Regions from separate parts of the Homo sapiens genome. Here region 1 is linked to region 2. Evidence: fine-mapped expression QTL. A gene starts in region 2. The other region holds a variant in brackets. All regions are shown on one strand. Distances are between the middles of the regions.

Region 1 (2,906 bases), 57 kb before region 2:
ACATGCTCATAGTTATGCACAGCGACATCAACATAGAGATATTTGTTGTAACACTTTTGTAGCAGAAATGAAAATGAATTTCACCCAATGTCCTTCAACAGGGTCATGGCAAAGCAAATTATGAGTCCTACATACTATGAAATTCTATGTAGCTGTTTCAAATGTCGACTAATAAATATTGATGTGGAAAGTTCTCTAAGACAGATTGCTAAGTGAAAAAAATCAAATAACAGAAACATGCAATCCTTATATCCATTTAAAAAGTACATATGCATAAATGTATTTAAATGCAATGCATAGACAAACACCAGCAGGATCATACCAAACAGTTAACAGTGGTTGTTTCTGAAAAGGGAAATGTATTGATGTTGGGAAGGTGAAGAGAAAGATGTAACGGAGTACTTCCACATTTTACTTAGCACACTTCTCTATAATTAGAGCATCTACATAATTTACCATCCAAGCCAGAAAAATTTGGAGTAAAAATACCTGCTGTTAATTGCTCTGGGACACCAGACATAAATTAGAACTGTTCTGGGCAAATGAGGTATATGGTCACATTATCTATAGTAAGAATATATTCATGATTTCATCGTTGAATTTTAAAAATCGGTGGAGCTTTGCCAACCACTGTCTAGAGTTGGGATTAGCAAACCACCTTGGACTGGACTTTTGTAATTATGAGAAACAAGGCTTGTGTGGCCACTTTTATATTTTAGTGTGAGGCCACACTAAAGGGGAGATATACCTCCCCCTGTGGCTTAGCAAACACTTTCCTTACCTTGGTATATAGAGCTCTGAGGATGGAATAGACCAATTTGTATAAAGAGCTCCGGGCCTTCAGGGAGGGAAGAGCCTGGGGCCCCTAAGCCATTTCCTCTAGATACAAACTTAGTAACTCTTTGCTGTTGTCTCTGGCACAGCCCTGATGGAGATACAGGCAAGCAAGAACTCACCCTGAAGTAGAAGGGCTGTTGGGTCTAGGCTGTCAACCTCAGCTTAATACAAGGGCCTGAAGCTTGTTCCACAGAGACTGGTTCTAGTGTAGGCTGTGGCGGAAGACATCAGCTTCTCTGGTACTGACCAACCTGGCACAGTTTCATGCCTTGGGATTCAGAGCTGAACACCTGAGGATGAACTAGTAGAGCTGTTAACGCTGGAATCCTGGCTAAGGTACCCCAGGCAGTGACTGTGAACTGATTGGATGTACCCATATGTGCCCATCCACCGTACTTTGAAGTTTAACTGACCATTCTGAACTGAGTAAGCACTTGAGATTCTTAGACAGTGGGGGGTGCAGGTGGGGAGAAAGACATTAGGAGGGAGAA[G/A]CTGGACTTGCTGCTAATAAAGGCAGTGGTGGTCCTGAGCGATGAATTTATACCTTTAACATGTCAAATGACTCATACGGATTATACTTTTAAAAATGACCATTGGGCCAGGCAATTTGGCTCATGTCTATAATCCCAGCACTTTGGGAGGCCAAGGTGGGAGGATTGCTTGAGCCCAGGAGTTCAATATCAGTCTGTCTCTACAGAAAATACAAAAATTAGCTGGGTGTGGTGGCGCATGCCTGTGGTCCCAGCTACTGGGGAGGCTGAGGTGGGAGAATCACTTGAGCCCAGGAGGTCAAGGCTGCAGTGAACCGAGATTGCACCACTGCACTCCAGGCTGGGTGACAGAGCGAGACCTCGTCTCAAAACAAACAAACAAACAAACAAACAAACAAACAAATAAAATAAATAAAAACAAAGATCAGCCATATGTCACCCCCTGTTAACCTGTGTTGATCCTTGTAATTGATTTAGGCATTAAGAAAACATTAAGAAAGAATCAAAGGAGGTGGGCCAAGGGGTGGAAGGAATTTGGAGTAAAGAAAACAGGGAGGGTTGGTGATGCAGCACACTCTACTCACGCGGCTGGTGTGTGTTCCAGTGTGTGTACTGCACCGGCTCGGGTTTCTGCCCTACTGGCTTCCAAGTGTATTCTCCCGTATCATTTTGGTCCTGAAGAGCTATCCAAAAATAACTGTCCTTCATTTTTACCACACTACTGATCAAACTGGTAATAAAAGCCTGTTCAAACCTTAAAAGGGGAAAAAAGAAGTGGTTACATTAAGTTTCTGGGCAATAAAAAAATGTCATTAAAGCATAATGAAGTGCACAGAATGGCCCCAGAGTAAGCATTTCTCATCAATTCTTTAGAACATGGAACAGGAAAACACCCAAAGACCCTGAACATTACTAATAAATGCCGAATGTCAGTGCAATTCCCAGAACTATATGAGTGAGCAGAATCTGACTCTTGCATATGGGGCTTAATTCTTGCACAGAATAGAGAGTCCAGCTCCAGTTTCAAAGCATAGGTGGTAAAGTTCACATGGCCAGCAATGCATTTCTTGGAGTACGATGTGGCCTATTTTGTAATTAGGCCACACACCACACACACCATGCCACAATATGCACGGGGTAAAGGTGGGCAGGAGGGAGGAGGAAAGATATTATGCTTTTCTGAATGAGCATTTACTAATACAGAGTTCACACACACCCACCTACCTCACTTGCCTGGTGAGAAAGAAACAGAAATTAAAGTAGCAATTTTATGTCTCCCAAATCAGTGTGTTCATAGGCAGAGGTAGGTCTCAGCTTATTCAAATGTGTTTAAATCTGCATGTTCACTGAAGAAAAATGTGAAAGCCTAGGAACTAATCTAAGGCCGTACATCCACTAATATACTTCCCAAACAGCTGAATGAATTACTGTTCAATGATTGGTGGCAGTGCCCCCTTTCCAGTATGAATGCATCAAAAGCAGAATATAGAAGACTCACATACATGCTTCCACATGCACACCTACTAAGAAAAACATGACTATTAAAATTTAACTAGCATTGAACCTTTCAGCTAAGTT
Region 2 (2,906 bases):
AAGAATGGTCTTGTTCTACCTGCCCCTGATTAAGCCTCCAGGGAGCTTAGGAAACACAGTCTAGAAAAGACTACCTCAAAAATGTAGACATATTCTACTGTGGAGGAAAAAATGTGAACGCAGATATTGATCACATCTTGTGTTACCCCTTCTCTCCAAACTTATCTCCAAAGGCAGAGAGGATGGAGGCTGTCTGGAGGCTCCTCCTGGCATATTTAACTCCCTCCTGTCCCCCTCCTACTTGCATATATGGACTTCTGCACTTAGGCGCAGGCTTCTCTGCCTGAGGTGGCCCATTCTCAAATGCGGGCCCCTGCAGGCCAGAAATCTCTCCTCCCTCTCTTTACACAACCTTCTGAGTCTCATGTGTAGTAGGTGCTCAATAAGTGTTTGCTGAATTGAACCCCGTTTTTCCACTGAGAGAGACTAAGGCATAAAGGCTTCAGATCACGCAGTTCATGGAGCCACTGGGGCTTCTCTCCCTCACCTGGCCTGATGTTTTCAGGCGGGGTGCGGTGGGTCAGGCCTGTAATCCCAGAACTTTGGGAGGACGAGGTGGGCGGATCACTTGGGCCCAGGAGTTGGAGACCAGCCTGGGCAACATGGTGAAACTCCGTCTCCACCAAAAATACAAAAATTTTGCTGGGCGTGCGGGCGCACACCTGTGGTCCCAGCTACTCGGGAGGCTGAGGTGGGAGGATCGCTTGACCCCGGGAGGCGGAGGCTGCAGTGAGCCGAGATCCCGCCATTACACTACAGCCTGGGCGACAGAGCAAGACCCTGTCTCAAAAAACAAACAAACAAAAAAAGTTTTCCTTAAGGAAGGGATGGACTGGGGAGGCCTGGCTTGGGGGTCACTCCTAGGTGGCGACGCAGACCCTGAGCGCTTGCTTTGCAAGGGGACGAACTGAGCCATCTTTTTGCTATCATTTATCCGTCCCAAATAAGCAGCTCTCAGAAAGTTTCCGTTTTGAAACTTCTCCGACACTCCTATCCCGGGCTGGCTCCGGGCGCCAGAGCCGAGAGGAGTTACCTGCGAGACCAAGCCCCCCCGCCCCCGCCGCCCGACCCCCGCAGGAGCCAGGAGGGTGCCGGGCCGCGCAAGTGGGGTGCTGGGCCTAGACAAGAGGCTGCAGGACACCACCCGCTCCCCCCATGCTCAGGACTGCTGACACACGAACCCCTACAAACGCGGCCGCCCTTGCCCGCCAGCTTGGCCCCTAGCTTCGCCCCTTCTTCCTCTCCTTCGACCACCCCGACCCCCCTCCCCAACGTACCGATCCAGTCCCCGACCCTGGGAGACTCACCCTGCCACTCCAGGAGCCGCTCGGGGGTAAGCGCCGCCGCCACACCCTCGGCGCAGCCCCGCGGCGCCCCCAGCAGCAGCAGCAGCAGCAGCGACGGCGACAGCAGCATCGCTAACCACTGGGCTCTCCGGGAGCCCCTTGTCCCGGGAGCCCCTTATCCCGGGAGCCCAGAGCCGCGTCCCAAGCACCCGGCCCCGCCGCGCGGAAGCGGATCCGTAGCCTCCTCCGCGCCCCACCCCCTCCGGGGGCCTTGCCAGCCCAGAGCCCTGGAGACCCACTCCGCCACCGCTGTCTCCACAGTGAACCGACACTCGGGGCTCTGGGCTGGGATGCGGGAAAGTCGCGGAGGTTTTCCTCGCCCCACCCACTGCGGCTTGGGGAAGGAGGAGGAGGAGGGGTGGGCCATCTGCCCATCCCAGAAATTCCTGCCTTTGGGGTGGGGACAGGCGGAGTGAGGCTGCTCGGGTCACACTCTCCGCTCCTCTAGCTTGCAGCCCTGCTCTCTCCTTTCTGGGGGAGGCCGAAGAGGAGTTGTGGGTGAGCGATTTGAGAATCTCCGGGACAAGGAGCCTGACATCCGGGTTTGCAAACCACCTGGATTCTGGTAAACACCGCGGATTTGCAGCGGGCAGCCTAGAGTGAACCCAGCTGCTCCGCGACGCAGGCGCTTTGGGAGGGTCCTGGACTCCTTTGACTTGTGGAGCACTGGAGACACCTGAGGGGCCACGCCGTGGTCTCCACCTTCCTTGCCCCAGAGTAACCCGGAGATTCTTCTATTCAGCTCCTTCGGTTTTGAAATAACCTCCTCTTTCCAACTCCTTTGATCCCCCAAGCCCCGCAAAGTAGCCGGGGTCCCTATTATCCCATTTTTACAGCTGAGAAACCCTGCCCAGAAAGTCGAAGTGCTTTGCTCTAGGTTACTTCCTAATCCAGCAAAAGTTACTCTCTAGCAAGTAGGACAGCCCTGGCTAGAATGTAGTCGTTCTAACTGTCCTCCTTCAAATAACCAGCAGAACACTGGAAGCGTTTAATATTCTGAGAACAGGCTCATATAAGACCTTTCCTCAGCGGGACCTTGACATTAGTCATTAAAACATAAGAGAGGGGGAGGGGAGGGGCAGAAAGCAGAGCCTGGAAGGAAATGCCTAGCAGGGAGCAAGATTGAAGGTCAGAGCCAAATGGGGAAGAAGGGAAAGTGGTTGCCTTGGCCATGGCCTTAACAAAAGGTGCTCAGTCCTGCAGGAACCTCAGAGAGCCTCAGAACTGTCTGTCGAGGACAAAAGGGGCAAGCGTTTATCCATGGACTTTATCCTTCCCTGTTGGTAAGGGAGATCCTAGGGTTATTAACTCCTCTGCACTGTTCTACAGCAGTGGTGAGTTTCAGTCATGGTCCCATACCTTGTCTCTTAGAAGCCCTGGGTGCATAGCATGGCAAAAGGTGAGGCGCTGTCAGGTTGTTTCTCAGAGGGTTGGGGGGTGGGGGACAGCCGGGGGAAACAGGCTGCAGAGGGGGCTGGAATAAGAGGTGGGTTGAGAGGATGTGAGAGGTTCCAATGTGTGTAGAGTTTATAACATATCATTACATGTAGAATTCAGCAT

What was found. PIP is the estimated chance that this variant, and not a neighbour inherited with it, causes the effect.
Region 1: its variant is fine-mapped to the expression of PLA2R1 in lung (TOPMed, PIP 0.98).

Annotation. Positions count from the first base shown.
Region 1 is chr2:160,003,740-160,006,645 of GRCh38, forward strand. PLA2R1 (phospholipase A2 receptor 1) reads right to left here. Exons shown (of 30, transcript NM_007366.5): 11 at 1,913-2,082. Among named protein-coding and RNA genes, the nearest start is that of PLA2R1, 57 kb to the right of the region's middle. The variant G/A (reference allele first, on the strand shown) is at 1,329.
Region 2 is chr2:160,060,988-160,063,893 of GRCh38, forward strand. It overlaps PLA2R1 (phospholipase A2 receptor 1), which reads right to left and starts at 1,628. Exons shown (of 30, transcript NM_007366.5): 1 at 1,308-1,628. The coding sequence starts at 1,416.